Linked DNA regions of Homo sapiens. The protein of the gene in region 3 purifies or fractionates together with the protein of the main gene of each other region. This does not show direct contact. Each region holds a gene or a part of one and is shown on either strand. Other genes may lie near its edges.

The links. Proteins that work in one complex are often made in the same cells at the same time.
Region 1: the proteins of ARSK (region 3) and GNS fractionate together in Homo sapiens (co-fractionation; one large-scale study listed by BioGRID). This does not show direct contact.
Region 2: the proteins of ARSK (region 3) and SUMF1 purify together in Homo sapiens (affinity purification with mass spectrometry; one large-scale study listed by BioGRID and IntAct). This does not show direct contact.
Region 4: the proteins of ARSK (region 3) and IGSF3 fractionate together in Homo sapiens (co-fractionation; one large-scale study listed by BioGRID). This does not show direct contact.

The regions. Positions count from the first base shown.
Region 1 is NC_000012.12:64,748,578-64,753,864, forward strand, and holds part of GNS (N-acetylglucosamine-6-sulfatase precursor), read right to left. Parts: intron 4,181-5,287; coding exon 4,121-4,180; intron 1-4,120. UniProt on the Homo sapiens protein: Hydrolyzes 6-sulfate groups in N-acetyl-d-glucosaminide units of heparin sulfate and keratan sulfate.
Region 2 is NC_000003.12:4,459,941-4,465,227, forward strand, and holds part of SUMF1 (formylglycine-generating enzyme isoform 1 precursor), read right to left. Parts: intron 1-5,287.
Region 3 is NC_000005.10:95,588,858-95,594,144, forward strand, and holds part of ARSK (arylsulfatase K precursor), read left to right. Parts: intron 1-2,543; coding exon 2,544-2,768; intron 2,769-5,287. UniProt on the Homo sapiens protein: Catalyzes the hydrolysis of pseudosubstrates such as p-nitrocatechol sulfate and p-nitrophenyl sulfate. Catalyzes the hydrolysis of the 2-sulfate groups of the 2-O-sulfo-D-glucuronate residues of chondroitin sulfate, heparin and heparitin sulfate.
Region 4 is NC_000001.11:116,590,405-116,595,691, reverse strand, and holds part of IGSF3 (immunoglobulin superfamily member 3 isoform 2 precursor), read left to right. Parts: exon of another isoform or gene 1-359; intron 360-623; exon of another isoform or gene 624-708; intron 709-2,381; exon of another isoform or gene 2,382-2,541; intron 2,542-5,287.

The sequences.
Region 1 (5,287 bases), on a different chromosome or scaffold from region 3:
TACTTGGATCTAATTGAGACACAGTGGTTCATTTGCAGGCTGATCTGCAGCTTTACACATTTCCTATATCATTTTATACACTGGACACAGACTTTTTTTCCCTACTGTAATTATATTTCCATTAGCTACTGTCAGCAACAGATTTTCCCCATTCTACCCAATCATATTGGTACACATCACCAAGCCACTTCACAGAAAGGTAATACTAGCTTATACTTGGACCAGCAGGGAAGGAATACTAGCTTATACTTGGACCAGCAGGGAAGGAATGGGCATTTGAGCACACACTCATGCAAAAATTGGGTATTATCCTTTCAATATTAGCAAGTTTTTTTGCCTTTCAAATTTGATTTGGCATTTTTATTTTTATTTATTTTTTTGAGATGGAGTCTCGCTGTGTCACGCAGGCTGGAGTGCAGTGGCGCGATCTTGGCTCACTGCAAGCTCCGCCTCCCGGGTTCACACCATTCTCTTGCCTCAGCCTCCCAAGTAGCTGGGACTACAGGCACCCGCCACCATGCCTGGCTAATTTTTTGTATTTTTAGTAGAGATGGGGTTTCACCGTGTTAGCCAGAATGGTCTCGATCTCCTGACCTCATGATCCACCTGCCTCGGCCTCCCAAAGTGCTGGGATTACAGGCGTGAGCCACTGTGCCCGGCCTTGATTTGGCTTTTTTTTTTTTTTTTTTTTTTGAGACACATTCTCGCTCTATTGCCCAGGCTGGAGTGCAGTGGCGCGATCTCAGCTCACTGCAAGCTCCGCCTCCTGGGTTCACGCCATTCTCCTGCCTCAGCCTCCCAAGTAGCTGGGACTACAGGTGCCCGCCACCACGCCCGGCTAATTTTTTGTAGTTTTAGTAGAGATGGGGTTTCACAGTGTTAGCCAGGATGGTCTCGATCTCTTGACCTCGTGATCCACCCGCCTTGGCCTCCCAAAGTGCTGGGATTATAGGCGTGAGCCACCGTGTCTAGCCGATTTGACATTTTTAAAAAATGGTGAGGAGGAACATTCTCCACATGTACTAACTGACTGTGTTTATGTGAACGGTTTGTTCATATGCTTTGCTCATTTTTTTCCCCCAGGGCTGTCGGCCTCTTGTTACATAAGATTTAAGTTAAGGAAGAATTCAGTCATGTTACAAATACTTCCCATTTTTACTTTTGCCTTTTATTAGATGTTTGACTTCTTAAGTTTAAATTGGCAACTCTTAACTCTTTCTCTTTTTGTTTTCTGATCAATTTTATGGCCAGTACACAGTTTATCTTAATATTACATTTTAGCATCTGGTAGAGCAATTTTTTTTTTTTTTTTTTTTGAGACAGGGTCTTACTCTGTCACCGAGGATGGAGTACAGTGGTGCGATCTCAGCTCACTGCAACCTCCGCAACCTCAGGGTTAAGCAATCCTCCCACCCCAACTTCCCAAAGTAGATGGGACCACAGACGTGCACCACCATGCCTCTGTTTTTGTTGCTGTTGTTGGTTTGAGATGGAGTTTCGCTCTTGTCACCCAGGCTGGAGTGCAGTGGCACAGTCTTGGCTCACTGCAACCTCTACCTCCTGGGTTCAAGCAATTCTAATGCCTCAGCCTCCCAAGTAGCTGGGCTCATAGGCGCTCGCCACCACGCCCGGCTAATTTTTTGTATTTTTGGTAGAGATGGGGTTTCACCATGTTGGGTAGGCTGGTCTCGAACTCCTGACCTCAGGTGATCTGTCCACCTCAGCCTCCCAAAGTGCTGAGATTACAGGTGTGAGCCACCATGCCTGGCCCAATGCCCAGGTATTTTTAAGTATTTTTAGTAGATATAGGCTCTTGCCATATTGCCCAGGCTGGTCTCAAACTCCTGAGCTCAAGCAATCCACCTGCCTCAGCCTCCTAACATGCTGGGATTACAGCATGAGCCACTGTAATTTTTTAAAAAAATTACTTTGATTATTCTCATCTATTTATTATTCCAGATAACTTTTGGAATCACTTGAGTCTCAAATAATCTTGTTAGGATTACAACTAGAATAAACATTTTATTACATAATATTGTGTCTTAGCTGAGCACAGTGGCTCACACCTGTAATCCCAGCTATTTGGGAAGCTAAAGCAGAGGATCACTTGAGGCCAGGAGTTTGAGACCAGCCTGAGCAACAGAGTGAGACCCTGTCACTAAAAAAAAGTGGAAAAAAATTGGCCAAGTGTGGTGATGCATGCCTGTAGTCCGAGTTACTTGGGAAGCTGAGGCGGGAGGATCATCTGAGCCCAGGAGTTTGAGTTCAAGTCTTCAGTGAGCTACGTCACTGCACTCCAACATGGGCGGTAGAGTGAGACCCTGTCTCAAAAAAGAAAAAAAAGAAAGAAATGTATATAAAATGATGTGCATATCTACGTATCAAATATTTTTTATCTTACCACTCGCATCATTTTGTAAAATACATAGGTCATAGCCATTTCTGGCCCCAACCAGTTACTCTTAGAGAGTTTATAAATTATGAATGAGGCTGGGCATGGTGGCTCACACCTGTAATCCTAGCACTTTGGGAGACTGAGATGGAAGGATCACTTGAGCTCAGGAGTTCCAGACCAGCCCGGGCTACATAGTGAGTGAGACCTTTTCTCTGTCTTTATATAGAATAAAAAGAAATAATTATGAATGAGATATTTTGTCTCCCGCCTTCTATTTTTCTAACTGATTACATGGAAGAAAGTTATTAATTTTTATTTTTTCATTTTTATCTTGCTGAATTCTAGTGATTTTAAAGGGTTTTCAATAATTCTCCTGTGTTTCTTAGATAGAAAATCCAAACAAGCAGAAATAATTTTTCCAATATTTTTACCTCTTATTTCCATAAGACTTATGGCTATGACTAGACAGTCGGAACAACATTAAATGGAGCACTGTTTCATCCCTAACAGCAATGCCCTGAGTCTTTTACCTTATGTATTTGAAATAGGCATCATAGTCAGGATGTATTCTTATGATAGCTTATTACCAGGAAAGAATGCTAAAATTTCAGAGTACTTTCTCGTATCTATTGGGAAGAACATTCAATTTTCCTTCTTTCACTTACTTGTATCATGTTGGTAGACATATAATAACCAACATCATGTAGTATTTACTATAAGAAGTCAGGCATTGGCTGGGTGCGGTAGTTCATGCCTGTAATCCCAGCACTTTGGGAGGCCGAGGCGGGCAGATCACTTGAGGTCAGGAGTTCAAGACCAGCCTGGCTAACATGGTGAAACCCCATCTCTACTGAAAATACAAAAAATTAGCAGGGCATGGTGGTGGGTGCCTGTAATCTCAGCTACCCAGAAGGCTGAGGCAGGAGAACTGCTTGATCCCCAGAGGCCGAGGTTGCAGTGAGTCGAGATTGCGCCACTCAAAAAAAAAAAAAAAAAAAGAAGAAAGAAAAGAAAAAATAAGTCAGGCACTGATAGAAGTGCTCTACACCTATTAACTCAACCTCACAACAACTCTGAAGAAGATTTTGGTACTCCCTTTTATAAATGGGGAGGAAGAGGGCCAGAGAGGTTAAATAGTTTGTCCAAGGTCACACTGCTAGAAAAGAGGCAGAGAGGGTGTTCCAGACTAGGCAGTCTGGCTCCAGAGTCTGAGCACTTAAACATAACACTATGCTACTGTTCAAGGGATTCCCTGATAGTAGGCTACCCTTACATTCCTAGACTACCATTCACTTGGTTATGTACATGGTTCTTGAAAATGAATTGCTAATACTTTATTTTGAATTTCTGCATCTATATTTATGGGGTGTGTGTGTTGCTATTTGTCAGTTTTGGCTATTAGGGTTAATTGGGTTTTTACCAAGGAAAAGTTTACACAGCATACATATTCCTTGATTTTTTATAATCCATTTTCAAACCTCAAATGGTAAGGTTTAAAATAAAATTCTCTAGTTCTGAGACTGGCTTAGAAATATCTGCAATTAATCTTCAATTGATAAGAGGTAATATTTCAATTAAAATTCACATTAAATAAATCCTTCCTTCAGATCAGGCATTTAACAAGGAAAAAACCACATAGATCATACCAGATTCCCGAGAAGAGAGTATCTTCTTAGAATACAAACACAGTTAAATTAACAAAATTGAATTAACTTTCAAACTTACAGCACTGGAAAAAGTCATCCCCATCTCTCCGATGAGAGCTTTGGTTTTCTTTAGCGGTGTCTGTAAAAGTAAGTAATTATCCATTAAACAATTTCTTCCAATAAATTGAGACACACAGCCCAGAATTCCTGTTTTGTTACATCTTACTCAATCTTTTATTCCCAAATGGTCAGCTCTAAGCAACAGCCAAAGAGAGTCTTGTATGATTCTAGAGACAAGTTTGGTTCCGGCCAGCTCCATCCTGTATAAAAGTGCAGGAAGTCAAAATGCTTGCAGGAAGGGAAAGTTCAGTTGATGGCAATAACATCTTTGTGCCCTTATTAGTCATCAGCGCCCAGATAAGGCAGATAGGGCAGACCTATCTCCATGAATTAATCTTTAGAAGTAGGATGTGGGAAATGATATAAAGGGAGCCTTCCGCCCTATAGAACAGAAGTAAGACAACAGTTGGATTCTGAAAGCCAGACAAGGCCCCAGGACTCCGAGACTGATTCAAACCTCACACACTCAGTGGTGGAGGCCAGACACACACTGTTCAACTACCAACTACTGTTGTCTGCATAGACCCACAAGCACCTCAGGATAAGGACTTGAACCAGGTGGCAAGCAGGTGTACACAGAACACTGTCAGGCAAAAGGCTACTCAGAAACTATTTTATGTCCTGCTTTTCATCTTTTGTTCAAAATCTAAGATCCTTACAAGTACAGAGAACAATTAACTTCCTTCTAGAATGAGGACAAAAGTATGAAGACAGTCATTTAAATACGAATAAAAGGAACACTAATATTCTTCAGATTCCAGACAGCAAAAAGCACCATTGAAGAGGTCATTTTAGTTGTAATATGGGTCAGTTCACGATGATTCTGAGATACCTTTGAAACCTAAGACCATATTGAATGCAGTTTTAAGTATATTTTGTTGTGCAATAATTCCTTAAAGATTGCTAATCTAAATACATAAGTAGGTTAACAGGAGCCTCATTTTCAATAATGTATAAATGACTTTTCCCCATTGTTTTATATAAATACAAAACCTACGGAATCCATAAACTCAAAAGGATGAGGATTCTAACTTATCCAAAAAAAGCTCTGATAATTTCATGAGTAGATCCAGAAGAGGCTGCCAAGAGACGCTAGAGAAGCAGAAGATCTTCGCCAGCCTTCCGA
Region 2 (5,287 bases), on a different chromosome or scaffold from region 3:
ACAATCTAAATGTCCATCAATAGCAGGCTCATTTTAAGTAAATTGTGGGCCTTCAATAAAATGGAAAATTAAGCAGCCATAGGAAAGAAAAAAGAAGAGGGGGATAAAAAAGGATGCTTTTGATATATTGATATGGAAAGATCTCACCATGATGAGCTACAAGAACAAAGCAAGGTGCACAAATGCTAAGTATGGTATGCTGTCATTAGCGTGAAAGTAGGTTGAGGGATACAGGTACACTATTTTTGTATTTACTTATATTTGCAGAACATAGCTCTGAGGAAATATATAAGAAATGCATGCAGTGGTTGTCTGAGGGGAAAGTTACTGGGTAAATGAGAAATTGTTCACTATATACTCTTCTATATGTTTTTAAATTTTTAAACCACGTAAATATACTACCTGTTTTAAAAAATAAAGTGTCAATCTGACCATACTACTTTCCTACTTAAAACTGTCAGGAATTCCTATCGCCTTTCAGAATAACATATATAAACATCAGAGCTCATCTCTCACACTCTCTCTTGCCCTGTCTTTCACCCGCATTTCCATAAACCACTTTGTCTCTTGGTAAATATTGTCATGGTTCAAGGATCAGCTCCTCCAGGAGGCCTTTCCTGCCTGCATATCCCTCTAGCTCATGTGCCCTCACACACACAGTGTGTGTGTGTGTGTGTGTGTGTGAGAGTGTGTGTGTGTATATATATACATATATATATATATATATTTTTTAAGAGATGGAGTCCCACTCTGTCACCCCACGCTGGAGTGCAGAGGCGTGATCACAGCTCACAGCACCCTTGATCGTCTGGTCTCAAGCAACTCTCCCACCTCAGCCTCTACGCAGCTGGCACTACAGGTGAACACCAACACACCCTGCTAATTTTTTTTTTTAGTAGACACGAGGTCTTGTTATGTTGCCCAGGCTAGTCTCCAACTTCTGAGTTCAAGTGATACTCCTGCTTCAGCCTCCCAAAGTGCTGGGCTTACAGGCATGAGCCACCGCATCCCACCCAAAGTATCTTAATTCTGTGTTTTCATCTTCCCTAGAACCTAGGCTCTTTGAGGACCAGAAATGAATCTTTTATTTCTATATCCCCACTGCCTAGCATGGTGCATGGTCCACAGCAGACACAAAAATCTTTACCAATTGAATGAGGTCATGACTGTAATGAGGAATTTATCATTTGAATTATGCATAATTATAAAAATGCTATTTAATTTATAACAGTTCTAGACATGCATAACATGTCAACATCACAGTGAAACCTGTCTAACAGATGTAGGTCAAGGACCGAACTAGGTTGTCCATTATTCTCACTATACTCTAAGTGCTGGGACACAAGATAACCCAGTCCTAAAAGGAGAAATCAACATTTTAAGCAGCTCTACAAAGAAGTAGAAAAATTGAAGACATCAGACAAAAGTTTCAAGAGCAGTCTTAAAATGATTAAGAGGCTCTAATAAGAGATTTCATAAAAGACTTAAAGAAAAAGCTTTCCTGTGGCAAATACTTCCTGTTAGGAGAACAGTTGCTCATCCCTCAGCTCAAAGGACCACAGGAAGCTGTGCCCATTGTACCTAATGAACTTTTACAATTATCTAACTTTTCTCATCTTCTTCTCCCTCAAGGTGAGTACCAACAATGCTAATGCAATCATGACTTCCATGTGAACTTCCGGCCGAGTTTTTTTTTTTTCCTTCTTTCATTAACCATCAGAGATAGCCAGTGCTGAATAAGCCAAGTTTCCATTCTGGAGACTATAGATAAAAATAGCCTGGATCACTCTGAGTGGATCATAATTTCTCATTTATACTAATGAAATAAAGTTTTCTGTCCTACAAATGTCAAATGTCATTCAAGTGAAAACCAGAGAACCAAGTGTCTCACTCTGTAGGATCCAAAGCCACATAAAAAGGACCATTTTAGTCAACTCTTCACTGAAGGTTCAAATTCAAACAATCCATATCTCCTCCAATCTGAAGGTGAGATAACCCCTTCCCTGCCACACCACAGCTTCTGCCACTGCCACTCAAGCCAGAAGCATAAGTGAAGTAAAGAATGACTCTATTATTCATTGGAATAACAGAACCATATGTGGGCTACACACTTAGGCCATGTGCAGTGGGCACTGCTATTTTGGTCCATCCGGCACCCAATCCCTCTACTTCTTGTAAAATACTGAAGTTCCTTTCCAAAACCATTTCTTAAGCTTTCTAAGTGGCCCAGGGGTACTGGATGACTCTATCCTACTTCCCAACCCCCACCAAGCCTGGCCAACCATAGCATTCTTTTGACCACGGAGATGTAATTAGGGATAGGCCCAAGACCCAATCAAAGTTCATCTTTGAACTTTTGCTGGAGCTACCAGGAAAGAACTTTTTCTCTTCTAGTTATCTTATCAGTAGGAGAAGGGACATTACCTGACAATGGAGCCGACTATGCAGAAGAGCCAAGAGATAGCCAAAGAGAAAGGCCTTGGAGATGCTGCCTGAGGCCCTGTATCCAGGTGTGTCTGGGGCCATATTTACTCTTGAACTTCCCAACTAGGGGAGCTATAAATGTCCCTTCCAGTTTTTTCCTGCTTAAGCCAGTCTTGTCTTTTTTTCACTTGCTACCGTAAGATTTTTGTCTTGTACACAAAAATAGAATCAGCTCATACGTAACTTTTTTGTGTAACTTCTCCTTTTCCTTCTTTCCTCTCCTCAACCTTAACATTAAAAGCTAAAGGCTCTTGTTCTGAGTCCCCTCTAATAAAAAATAAAATAAAATAAGCTAAAGGTTCATGAGAAAGCTGGGTGAATAAGAGAAGCATGCTCTCTGGATCTGTCCACAAACTCCTGCCTTATCTATCTATACAGGGCTTATTTATCTATACCATTCTGTCACCCTCCTGCCTCTACAGACAGACACTAATCATAGATGAAATGACATTCAAAGTTTCTTGCAGTTCTGAGCTATATGATTCCTTTAAGCCTCAGTTGCCTCATCTGTAAAGTGGGAGATGATCTCTCTCACAGGATTCTTAGGAGGATGAATACAGCAAAAGAATACTTTACAAATGTTTCTTGAAAAAGTATGTGACCTTCTCTATTCCCAAGGCAGTTTCTCAATACTGTATCCACCAAAAAAGGAAACACAGGTCATTCAAGAAATTATTACAGAATGCCTAAAATGTATAAGGCACGTGGGGGATATAGAGATTAAAACATCTAAAAATGCTTCCAATGTAGAATATCAGACAACTACAAAACTAGCACTACATTAGGGCTGGGCGCGGTGGCTCACGCCTGTAATCCCAGCACTTTGGGAGGCAGAGGCAGGTGGATCACGAAGTCAAAAGATCGAGACAATCCTGGCCAACGTGGTAAAACCCCGTCTCTACTAAAAATACAAAAATTGGCCAGGCGTGGTGGCAGGTGCCTGTAGTCCCAGCTACTTGGGAGGCTGAGGCAGGAGAATCATTTGAACCCAGTAGGCAGAGGTTGCAATGAGCCGAGATTGCACCACTGCACTCCAGCCTGGGTGACAGAGCGAGACTCCGTCTCAAAAACAAAACAAAACAAAACAAAAAAACACTAGCACCATATTGAAGAAAATATACAAGTTGTCATCAAACAACAACAAAATAAGCTATGGGAACTGAGAGGATAGAAAAACTACTTCTTTGTAGGAGGTGGAAAGGTTTCATGGAAGAGACGGCATTCGATTGTGCCTCATTGCCCAGGGAAGCATTACCAGTCAGAAACCTCCTCAGACAGGAAATCAAGACTGACTTTATCCATATGTACAGACATGCCACCTACAATCTTAGCATCCCATGATCCTAAATGCCTTTCAAATAACTCTTCTAAAAGATAAAAGCAGACTAAAACATTTTGCTTCCTTGTTACAAAATCATAACCCACGCAGAAAACTATTAGGATAATTTTCTCAATGAGAATCATATTTTTATAACCAGAGGGAATACACATTAAATTTTTAAACATCTATATTGTTTCCCAGACAATTCTAATCGCCATAACTTTCTAGTGAAACTGAAAATTTCTTGAGGGCAAAGCCCAGTGTTATTTCTCTGTGCCCCTCACCTTGCCACACACACTCATTGTATGAATACACAAAAACAAAAAAAGACTCATCTAAAAAGTGTTACATTAAAAAGTGTGAACATGTCACTCCCAGATCTTAAATCACTTATGTTTCCCAGCACACACCACGCATTTCCACAATGTGCCATGTGTTGATACTATTCTCCTTCTTGGAATGTCCTTGAATCTGGAATTCCATTCCCAGCTCCGAAAAATATTTCCTCCAAGGCCTAGCTCAAATGTGGCCTTTTTTTTTTTGAGGCACTACTCGACTTGTCCATGAAGAATTAATTCTTTCTTCCTCTCCAGGTACTCTGGACATATCCCTCCTATAGTATTCTCACTATAGAAAAATGATACTTATGTGTGTGTCTGTGTGTGTTTGTGTGTGTGTGTGTGTGTGAGAGAGAGAGAAACACCTACCAGAGTGTAAATGCCATGTGGGTAGTGTATGGGTCTTTTTCTGTATGCCCAGCACATAGGATGAATCTTACATAACAAGTGTTATATAGTAATGTGCCAAATAAACATTTGTTTAATTAAACCAAATAAACAGAAAACAAAGAGGGGAAAAAAGGCAGAAACACCACTATGCTCATTTACTTCTCCTGAAATATTGGAGTTCCTGAATTTAGAATAAATGGTAAAGTGTCAGAATTAGACCAAAGTCATCTGCACATGAACTAAAACATTTGAAACCAAGGAAAATAGAGAGATTAAGAACAGCCTCCTATGACGTCATTGTCTTGATAACAAGACTGCTTCAGTTTCAGTCATTAAGTTCAGCCCTTGAAGGCTTGAAGGTATATTCTCATCAACCACTAATTTGTTAATAAATTGAGATGCCCCTAAGCATTGTAGAAAGCAGACTATAAGAACTGGCCAAAGATGGCCCATATAGCATCCAGTCAAGACACAAAACCACTCTATAGGGATGAAAAATGTACATCTTGTAAATGTAATCCAAAAGATTCTAACATCCACATCCCATTCTGGAACCCAGAGGAAAATAGAATGTTTAAAAATGAAAAATGTTCAATGCTTGCCAGAGGAATCTAGATAAAATTTTGAGACAGACCAATGTATATATGCAAATGAGATGGCTGCCCTATTAAAAAATAGATAAACAGATGTAAGGATTTCTCCTTAGAAAGAGGGACAGACTGGCTTGGCGCGGTGGCTCACGTTTGTAATCCCA
Region 3 (5,287 bases):
AGGCTGAGGCAGGAGAATCACTTGAACCCGGGAGGCGGAGGTTGCAGTGAACCAAGATCACACCACTGCACTCCAGCCTGGTGACAGAGTGAGACTCCGTCTCAAAAACAAACAAACAAAAAAAAAATTAAAGACAATCTAGTGTCTTTTCCCACCTCAAGGTCTTATATTTTGTTTCATCTGCCTGGAACACCCTTCCCTTTGCTTTCTACATGGCTGGCTTATTCTGTCTTTAGATCCCAGCTCAGTTGTTACCTCCTCAGGGATGTCTTCCCCAACCACTCTAACTCAGTGTGCCAGCTCCATCATTCTGCTTACTTTATACCTTGTCAGGTTGTTTACATAGTAATACTAATTATTCGTCTGTTTACCATCTGTTTCCCTAGAAGAACACAAGCTTCATGAGGGCGGGGACATTCTTTTATTTTTATTTTAAGTTCCAGGGTACATGTGCAGGGTATGCAGGTTTGTTACATAGGTAAACGTGTGCATAGGTAAAAGGTGGTTTGCTGCACCTATCAACCCATCACCTAGGTATTAAGCCCAGCATGCATTAGCTATTTTTCCTAATGCTCTCCCTTCCCTGGCAGGCCCCAATGTGTATTGTTCCCCTCCCCGTGTTCATGTGTTCTCATTGTTCAGCTCCCACTTATAAGTGAGAACATGCAGTGTTTGGTTTTCTGTTCCTGCGTTAGTTAGCTAAAGATAATGGCTTCTAGCTCCATCCATGTCCCCGCAAAGGACATGATCTCATTCCTTTTTATGGCTGCGTAGTATTGCATGGTGTAGATGTACCACATTTTCTTTATCCAGTCTATTGTTGGTGGGCATTTGTGTTGATTCCATGTCTTTGCTATTGTGAATAGTGCTGCAGTGAACACACATGTGCATGTATCTTTGTAATAGAATGATGTATATTCCTTTGGGTATATACCCAGTAATTGGATTGCTAGGTCAAATGGTGTTTCTGGTTCTAAATTTTGGAGGAATTGCCACACTGTCTTCCACAATGGCTGAACTAATTTACATTCCCACCAACAGTGTAAAAGCATTCCTATTTCTCCACAACCTCTCCAAAATCTGTTGTTTCTTGACTTTGTAATAATTACCATTCTAACTGGCAATTATTTATTGCCAGTTAGACGTTTATTGAATGAGCATAATCGGTAAACATTTATTGAATGAGCATAAATGCTAAGAATTACAATGTGTTGTTGTGACTACAGTAATATGCAAGTTGTAGGCATCCTGAAGAACAAAGTGATTTACTCTACCTAGAAGAGCAGGGAATGGTGCTTTGCTAGAGAGATAATGCATGTTTGAGCTGGGTCATAAAGGAAGAATAGGAATTTGTCAAGTAGACTGTGGGAGAAAGGGCATTCACCATAAATGGCAGAGTATATGCAGAGGCAAGAAAGCGTAAACTAATATGGTGTGTGTTTAGGAGGTTCTGAGCAGGTTAGGATTGTTGAAACGTAAAGGTCTAGCAGGTAGCCGAGGGTGCTGAGTGTGGAGAGTGGACAGGGGCATTGCTTGTTATGCTAAAGAATTCGACAGTGGGCATCTATGAAAAAGTTTCAAGCAGGGATGTGACACAATGGAGTGATTAGGTAATTTAGAAAGATAGACACCAGGATAGTACAAGCAGGGGAAAGAGGAGTAGGGGCAAGACCGATTAGTAAGTAATTCCAGTTGTCCAGTTGAAAAATCAAGAGAGTCTCAACTCTGCAAATAACTCCATAGAGCAGTGAATGTCAATCCTGATTACACCTCAGAATCTGTAGGTTTTTAAATTAATATACACTCTTCTACCCAGATTCAGGAACTGCCAAAATAGGGATGACCCTTCTCTCTGGCCTGTGCTTTCTTGTGATTCTCTTAATTACAGTAGGAGGAAGTTCGAGAACACTGAGACAGGAACTGGTCAGAGGAATTTTACTGTCCCATTATTCCCTATCCAAGAAGATGCTAAATCAAACTTGTACACTATCTGTCCTGCTTCCAGCCCTTCTTCAAAGGTGGGATTTCCATAATCCTCAGCCAACTTTATGAGCATGATCTGGTGATTGCTTAGAGATTTGGGAGAAAAAGTAGCAGAGAAGAAGAGTTCTGACTGCTCTTATCACTTCCTGTTGCACAGAAACTGTGGGTCAGAGGTGATACCAATCTTTTTATCATCTGAGACATGTAAAGTGCTCATATCCAACTGATCTTTCTTTTCTCATTCAAGGCACTAAGGGGAAGATTTTTTCCCCTATTCTCTGGTAGAAACCTAGAAAACAAGCCGGCATGATCTCCAGATAAGCAGCTTTGAGCAAGAGTTCCCATGGGTATTATATTTTCTTCTTCCTCTAGTCAGCTGAAGAGCAAGCAGTAGACAGACCACTGTCAACTTTAGACTTAACTTGAGAACAGTAGGTAATATTCAGATGTTAAGAAGCATAGTGACAAACTCTTATAGGGTAGAGTGGTTATAAACTTAATGTGATAGAATAAAACATGAACTGAAAGTTTTAATCGGTTTATCATGATTTCTATTGTAGGTGAAATTATTTTGGCCCTTCATCAATTAGATCTTCTTCAGAAAACTATTGTCATATACTCCTCAGACCATGGAGAGCTGGCCATGGAACATCGACAGTTTTATAAAATGAGCATGTACGAGGCTAGTGCACATGTTCCGCTTTTGATGATGGGACCAGGAATTAAAGCCGGCCTACAAGTATCAAATGTGGTTTCTCTTGTGGATATTTACCCTACCATGCTTGGTAAGTAATGTAGTTCTGTAAATATTTATTTGTAATAATGCTGGAGAATGCAACTGAAGTTGTCAGTGAGTCAGTCTTTCAGTTAGTAGTCAGAGGTCCTGCTGACTTGTTTATAACCCTGAGCAACTCATTCAACTGTGAGTCAAATCTGTACTCTGAAGAATGAAGAGATTGTTTTTCATGTCCCTGTGGCCTTCACTTACTATAGTCATTTTCCCTCAAAAGATTTGTATTCAGGAGATGACTGTAAAGTAAGCCATGTAAGATATTCGGGTTCATAACCTTATAGATATGATTTGTACATCATTTGATTGTCTACCACCACCTCCTTAAAATGTAAGCATTTCCTTTCTGAATTATTCTATTCACTTTGAAACTAGTATGAACATATTCCTCCTCAGACTCTTTAGATAGTTCTGTACTATTTGCTTTACTAGCTTCTTAATGTCTACAAGCATAGCCATATGTCTAGAAAAGCAACATATGGATAAGGGTAGTTAGCAGTTTTTGTTGAAGATACTAGAATAACGACATAATCAAATTCAAAGGAAATCATAGAACTAACTTCTAGTTTCTATCTCATTTAGCAAAGTACTTTAAATTCATTAGCATTTAAACACTAGTTTCTCTGTTCTAAGGCACCATCAATTGGAAAAAGTACCCTCAATTCATAAATTTTGGTGAAAGAAAAAAAAATAGCACAAGTTATGTTCTCTAATTTCAGAAATGTTAAAATGTGAAAGAAAGATGCATCTTAAAATCAAAGAAATCAGAGTTCTTTTTATCTGCTTCCTTCTGCCACAAAGTTCTTCCCTTAATTTAACTAAATTTATTTAGAGTTAATTTAAACCAGCGTCCTTTCCTCTTTTATTTCATATCCCTTCTCATATAATTACACATACTTCTTTCCAGTTCCTTGAACTCTTTTTTTTTGTGTGTGTGTGATGGAGTTTCGCTTTTTCACCCAGGCTGGAGTGCAGTGGTGCGATTTCGGCTCCCTGCAACCTCTGCCTAACAGTTTCAAGTGATTCTCCTGCCTCAGCCTCCTGAGTAGCTGGGATTACAGGCGCCTGCCACCATGTCCAGCTAATTTTTGTGTTTTTAGTAGAGATGGGGTTTCACCATGTTGGCCAGGATGGTCTTGATCCCTTGACCTTGTGATCCGCTTGCCTCGGCCTCCCAAAGTGCTGGGATTACAGGCGTGAGCCACTAAGCCTGGCCAGTTCTTTGAATTTTTAATCTCTTCTGTTTCTTAGTCATCATTTGCTGGTTTCCCTTTATCCCAAAGTAATGATCACACTCAGCCATATCTGGGCCACTTTCTCATTCCATTAGTTTCTAGCTGATCACTATTACTTTTCCTCATTTCTGTGTTTTTTTTAAAGAAGTTTATATAGAACTGTGTATATTTGGGTCTCTTTTATTAGTATATTTAGAGTTTTATGAATATATATGAATTTAGAGTTTTATGAATATATGCCTATATTCTTTACAATTTCCTTCCTTAATTTTTCTTCATGTAGAACTCTCCCTACCCTCCCCATTCCCAAAGAAAATCTTCCTTGGGTCATCTTTGCTTGACTTTTTAGCCTCATTCTGTTTTCTTGAGGTATAGTGACCAGAACTGCAAAAAGGTATTGTAAAAGATTATGGAAAGCTGGGGTGATTCTTTCTCCGTTTTTCCCTCAGTATATTTCAAAGTGATAGTTGCCATTTTATCTATTTGACTCTAGCAGCTAAATAGTTAAATATCTTTAGGGAGTTGTCTACAGTGAGCCCTATTCAATTCTTAGACATTCTGTCATCATATATGTTAGTTAATTAAAATGCATGGTTTAAATCATTTTTCTTTAAACATTATTTTATATTTGCCCACAATGCAAATTTTGTACTCTACAATCTTGAGAAGATACCATTATTACTTCTTGCCATTTTATACATCATAAAAGTTAAAGGTCATCTGCAAACTAGCAGATTTCATAATGTATTTAACAGGTCATATAAGAAAATACTAAATAAAATTTGTTAGAATGGGGAAATTCTCATGCATCTACCTATCATCACTGCCTAATTTATGTTACTTGCTAATAAGAATTTCTCTAGCTAAGAAAATACTGTCTCAGAAACTCCTCTAAATTCCATCCCAACTCTTCTGTAAATGATGTAAATTCCCTGCACCTGTAGGTTTTTTTCCTGCAATTTGTCAATTATTATAATTCTCTAAAACTATAGTTTTATATAGATTTTTATTTTTCATAAGATTCTTGGTAATAGACTCCTTCTAAGTCACATTTCCCTGCAGAATATGTTTTATTAACAGCATTTAGATCATGTGTTGATTAGACCTCCTCAGTAAAAGGAAATAAAGTCAAAAATAAATCTCTCCAATTCTAAACTGAAAAATTAACATCTTCGTGGCTTAGCACAGTTTATAATGTGTTTCACATTGAATATTATTTTTATTATCAGAAGAGGGAAAGCTACATTTAAATGATTTTTTTAGTTGGGGAAGAGTGAGT
Region 4 (5,287 bases), on a different chromosome or scaffold from region 3:
TACATTAAAATTGACAAAGCCATAAACAAGCTTCCATGAGGACAGCCTCTAGTGGTGGAAAGCCGACTTGTCAGAGGGTGTATTCTGCTGGGATTTTACTGATGGGCAGTCAGGATGAATATTTAATACCCTCTGGATGTTGCCAAATCGGTTTTCTTCTATTTCTTATTGCTGACCCGGCAGATTGGGATAGCAGAGGGCTTTTCTTTGACTTCCATGAGTCCAGAGCATGTGAACACTGGCTCTCCTTTCACATTCTGAGGGATGGCTGCCCCATCCCTCAGAGGACTGGCCTCTGCCTTCTTTCAGGGGAGTCTGGGGTTCTCCTTCTTCCATCCCAGGTGGCTTCTGCCTGTTGTCTGTGCCAAGATAGAATGGGTGTCAGTGCAAGAGCCCTAAGAGGAGAGCTCAGCCCCTCCCAGATCCCTCAGGCCTGTTGTCATGGTAACACCGGGGCACTTGTTATTGGCATCAAGGAGCCAGGGTCACTGCCCTACCTGCAGACAGGTAAGGCAGGGTAGGGCACATCTGGGTAACCTTCATTAGCTATTTCCACCTGCAGACTCTTGCTGCTTTCCCCTTGCCCCTCCCTCCCTGTCTCTCTGCATGCATTGAGCACCTACTAAGTGCCAGGTTGCCATGCTGGTGAGGCTGCTGAGATGGGTGTGTCACGTTCCTGCCTTGCGGGCTCTGTGGGAGGCAGCAGGCCTAGGGACAAAGGAGAGCAGAAAAGCGTTACAGGTGTGGAGGCAGAGCCAGCACAGGGCATGAACGGGGGCAGGGGGCGTGAGGAGGGAATGGGGTAGGGGTGAGGGTGGGAGGTTGGGAAGGAGGAGTGGAGCATTTCAGGCTCAGAGAAGAGTGTGAATAAATATAGTCACGGAGGGTGGGAGCAGCATGCTTATCTTGAGATGACTAAAGCATGGGGTCTGGGGAGGGTTCACCCCCAGGCAAGCTGGCAGGGATCAAGAAGTCCCTTTTGTACATGGGAGCATGGGGTGAGGGTGGGCATATGTAATAGCTAAAAGCAAGGACAGACCAGACGGCCTGGGTTTGAATTCCAGCTCTACCACTAAGCCAGCTGTGTGACCTTGGGCAAGTGTCTTTATAAAATTGGGAATAATATTTATTTCATAGGATTGGTGAGGACCAAATAGTTAATATTTATAAAGTGCTTAGAATAGTGCTGAGCACATAGGACCAGATGAAAGTTTGCTAAATAAATGAGAATATCCTAAACTCAGAAATTAGGACTTTAGCTCATACCCAGATCATATACTCCATTTTTGTAATAATTTATAATGTTCCCTTTACCCAGAAATGAAATTCATATACAATATAACATTCCTAATCATATCTTTAAAATTTGCTATATTGTCCTAGTTGTGGGATAAAGAAAGTTTTTTTTAAAAAAAGTAGTTCATAGTAAAATAATGAGTTTCAGTGCGTAAATGCTCAGGACAGCTATGCTAGGAGGCACAGTCACAGTCAACGCTGTCTCTAAATGCACACTGACAGTCACTGTATCAGACTTGGCACCATGAGCAGGACTGCCATCCTGACAGGGTTTCTGAAGTCCTGAGTAACTCTTGCTACAATTCTGAACAAAACAAAGGAAAATCCTCTCTTGACTGACCTGGCATATTTTAAAACCATGCAAAATAAAAGTATTGTGATTATAGTAAAACGAAAGTAGGTTCTAGGCCCAGAGGCATAATTTTTGCCCATATGAATGTCATTCGAAAGTCACACAGGACACGAGGCAGAGTTTTGTTGCATGGAGTTGTCCCAGATACAATTTTACATCTTTAATGGCTTTATTCCATTGAATATATACCCCTCCCCAAATCAATATGGCAACCAGAGACCTGCTTGCAATTAGCTGCCTTATTGAGAACTGCTGTCACGGGCTGTGGGGTGGGCAGCCGTGGGCAGTAGCATGCCCCATTTGCCATTTAGGGAAATCCCCTGGCTGTGGCTAGGCTGAGAGGGAGGGAGTGTCATATGCAGGCCAATTACAAGAGCCTGAGAAAGAGATCATTGAGGGCCCAAATAGGGAATGGTCATGTGGAGAGAGCAGGGAGCCAAGGGGTGTTAAGGACAGAGGGACTCAGGGGTAGTAACAGTTTGACTGGCAGGCGCCTGTGCCACTGGCTTCCCATGCAGCTCACCCTGCATTCTTTCCTTGTCTCTCATCTGACTTGCTTCTCTCCACTTGAAACATCTCCTGCCGCAGCCACTGGCCGCCTCTATCTCTAGCATTACTGTCTGTTGTCTTTAATAAAGAGCAGTGTCTTCCTCCCTCAGTGCCCATCTCTTTGCACGTGCCACTCTGGCTGCTGCTCACAGCACTGCACAGAAACCACCTTCTCCAGACTTACCGGCAACCACCTCAGCAGCACGGCTGTTGCTTCTCAAACTTGAATGTGCATCAGAATCAATTGGAGGGCTCATGAGACTGCAGGTTGCTGAGCCTTACTCGCAGTTTTTCTGACTTAGCAGGGGCTGGCAGATTCCCAGGTGATGCTGATCTGCAGATCCATGGCGTGCACCCTGAGGGCCACAGGTGGTCAGGATCAAGTACAAGCTGCAGGCCCCTTGCAGTGTGGCCGAAGCTTACCTTTCTAACCTCATCCACTACACCTGAGCACTTGCTCCTCCTTGAATAGAGTGCACAGGGTAGTTGTCATCTTTTTCCTCTTGTCCCCTCTCTCTGGCGTGCCCTTTGATTCTCCTTCTCTGCTTGTTTCTCAGGGCCTAGCTCAGGGGCCATATACCTTTTGAAATGTTCTCTTTTCTATCAAAATCAGAATTGCCCCTCCTTTTGAAAAGTAACCACATTTATTCAACCATTCATTGATTAGTTTAACAATGATTGGGTCAGAGTCCCTGCCCTGCATATGCTTAGAATTTTGTAAGAAAGAGAAGATTTTAAGAATTACCTTCGTTGTAAGGCAGCAGTAACACAGCTATAGTAGAGCGTAAGGGAATCCTTTATTGAAGAAATAAATGAGTTTTGAGTGAGAAGAGCACGCACAGAGTGGAATCCGAAGGGAGGGTAGGCTGGCTGAGAAAGCTGCTGCTGGTCTCCGCTGCGAAGTTCTTCCCTCTTCCTGATGTCTCACCTTGAAACCACCCTATCCTGGCCTGTAACAAACACAACAGCCTCTCCTACCATACAAAACACAGATCTTCCAAGTTTTAATCACAAGCCTGGGAAGGAAACTCTCCAGTTGCAGAAAGAAAGGGCCACTCCCTCAAAGCAGGGCCTGGCCTCTGGGGGCTGCTGTGAAGGCAGCTGCTGGCGTGAGCTGGAGCAACTCTCGGACCCTCTTCCTGTCTCTTGCTGGATTCTTTCTTCCTCCTGCCAATTCACTGTTGGGGGTTAACCAAGCCTCACTCTTTTCTTTCACGTCTGCATTTATGGCCTCTCAAAGCCCATTCACTCACACGGCCAAGTCCAGGGTTTCTCAGGCTTGAAGCTACTTGTGAATCACCTGGGGATCTTGTTAAAGTGCAGATTCTGACTTACTGGGTCTGGGGTGGGGCCTGAGAGTCTGCATTTCTAACAAGCTCCCAGTGCTGCTGGTCCGAGAACAGCACTTTGAGCAGGAAGATTGCCACTTATGCTTGACAACTCCCATTCTAAGTGTTGAACTTTGAACTTGGGACAAGGCACAGAAACCAAAAAGGAATGAGAATAGCTAAAATTCACTGGGTGTTTGTTATATCCCAGGTTCTGTGCTAAACTCTTTTTATAGACCATTGCTTTTAGTCTGCACAAAACTCCTAATGGAGATAGAGACATTGTTCTTATTTTGCAGATGAAAACACCTGTGGTCTCTAAGTGGGCAGGGCTCTCCTAGCTCTGTGGAGGAAGGTGGTGCACGCAAGCTGTACACCGCCCAGGGCAGGGCTCTGGCAGGACATGGGAGGGCTCCCTAATTATATGTGGAGATTCCAGTCTCCCCTGTGCCTCAGGAAAGGTCCTACCTGCCCTGGAGATGTGGGAGGAAATCCAGAGCATAGAATAGGAGCTGACCCCTTGCCCACCTGTCAGACGTGCACCAAATTTAAAAAATGCCTCTCTTTCAAGCTTCTCAACACTTCACAATATTTTGACATGGGAAGGAAAAAAAATGGAAATGCTTTGAAACATTTCTCTTCCTTGAATTCATGTTCTCAGACCATGTGACTGAATAGAAGTTTAGTCATAGGATTCCAGTTTAACATATGCAGTTACTATAGCAATTGAGGTTTCCTTAGTAACAGTTGCAAAAATAATCCGGCCCCAATTAATAATACATTTTAAAGCTCTTTCTACTCCATGCTGAACAACCCAGTTTTTTTGGCCAAGAACCAGATAATTCAGGTGGTGTCATTTGCACTGATATAGATATCATTTGCATGCGGTGAATTGGGTTGGAAAGGAATGAAAAGGGAGCCGGTTGTTTCAAGTATTATAGGAATCCAATCTGAAAAGTCGACTGGCAAGCGAATGCAAATCTAGTTTCCAGAGCTTGGGAGCTTAATGGTAAACCCTGTCCTGGATTCCTAGTGTGCCCTAGAGGACTTTCTGCATTTGAAGAAGGGAGAAGGCAGAAGATTGGACTTGCTAACAAAAAAGATGAACCCGGGAGGGTGGGGCCGTGGCACACAGGATTTCTCTCTAAGTGGTGCCTGGTGTGTTCTTGATGGCGTGAGAAGGTCTGTGGGTTTGTGAATTCAACAAGTCTTCCTGGAGAGAATGTCCGATTTACTGCGGGAGATGCTCCGCAGTGTTGCTCAGTCATGGCATTGGGAATTGGACTTTGCCACACCTTGGCTTGCTAAATCCTTCCATCCATTCAGAACATTTGTCTGTGTGTTACAGGGAGACCAAGTGGCAGTCTGTGGCTTTCACAAGTTTTGGTTCTGTGATGCATGGGACTCAATCAACCCTTGATGCTGCCAAACCAAGCTTAAGCCAGCTGGCAGGCCAGGGTCATGACCAGTGGGCTGGGTCCTGGGTCTGGATGCAGTTCCTGGGGTTGAGCTGGACTAAAGAGACAAGAGTCTGACCAGTAGAGTGCTGGAGCCTGGCCAGGCATCCCTGCCCTGCCCCTGCCCCTGCCCTCCACACAAGCTCGGTTGGAGGAGGCCTAGGTTGCTGTCCCTGGGTGGAATCTGCACCTTGCCCCTGCTTTCTTTCTCAGCTGGGAAGTGGTTTGGTCCCTGTGGCGGAAAAACTAAGTGTGAAGAGAGTGGTGGAGGTGGAACAATTCTTGTACTATTAGTTCCCTAAGAG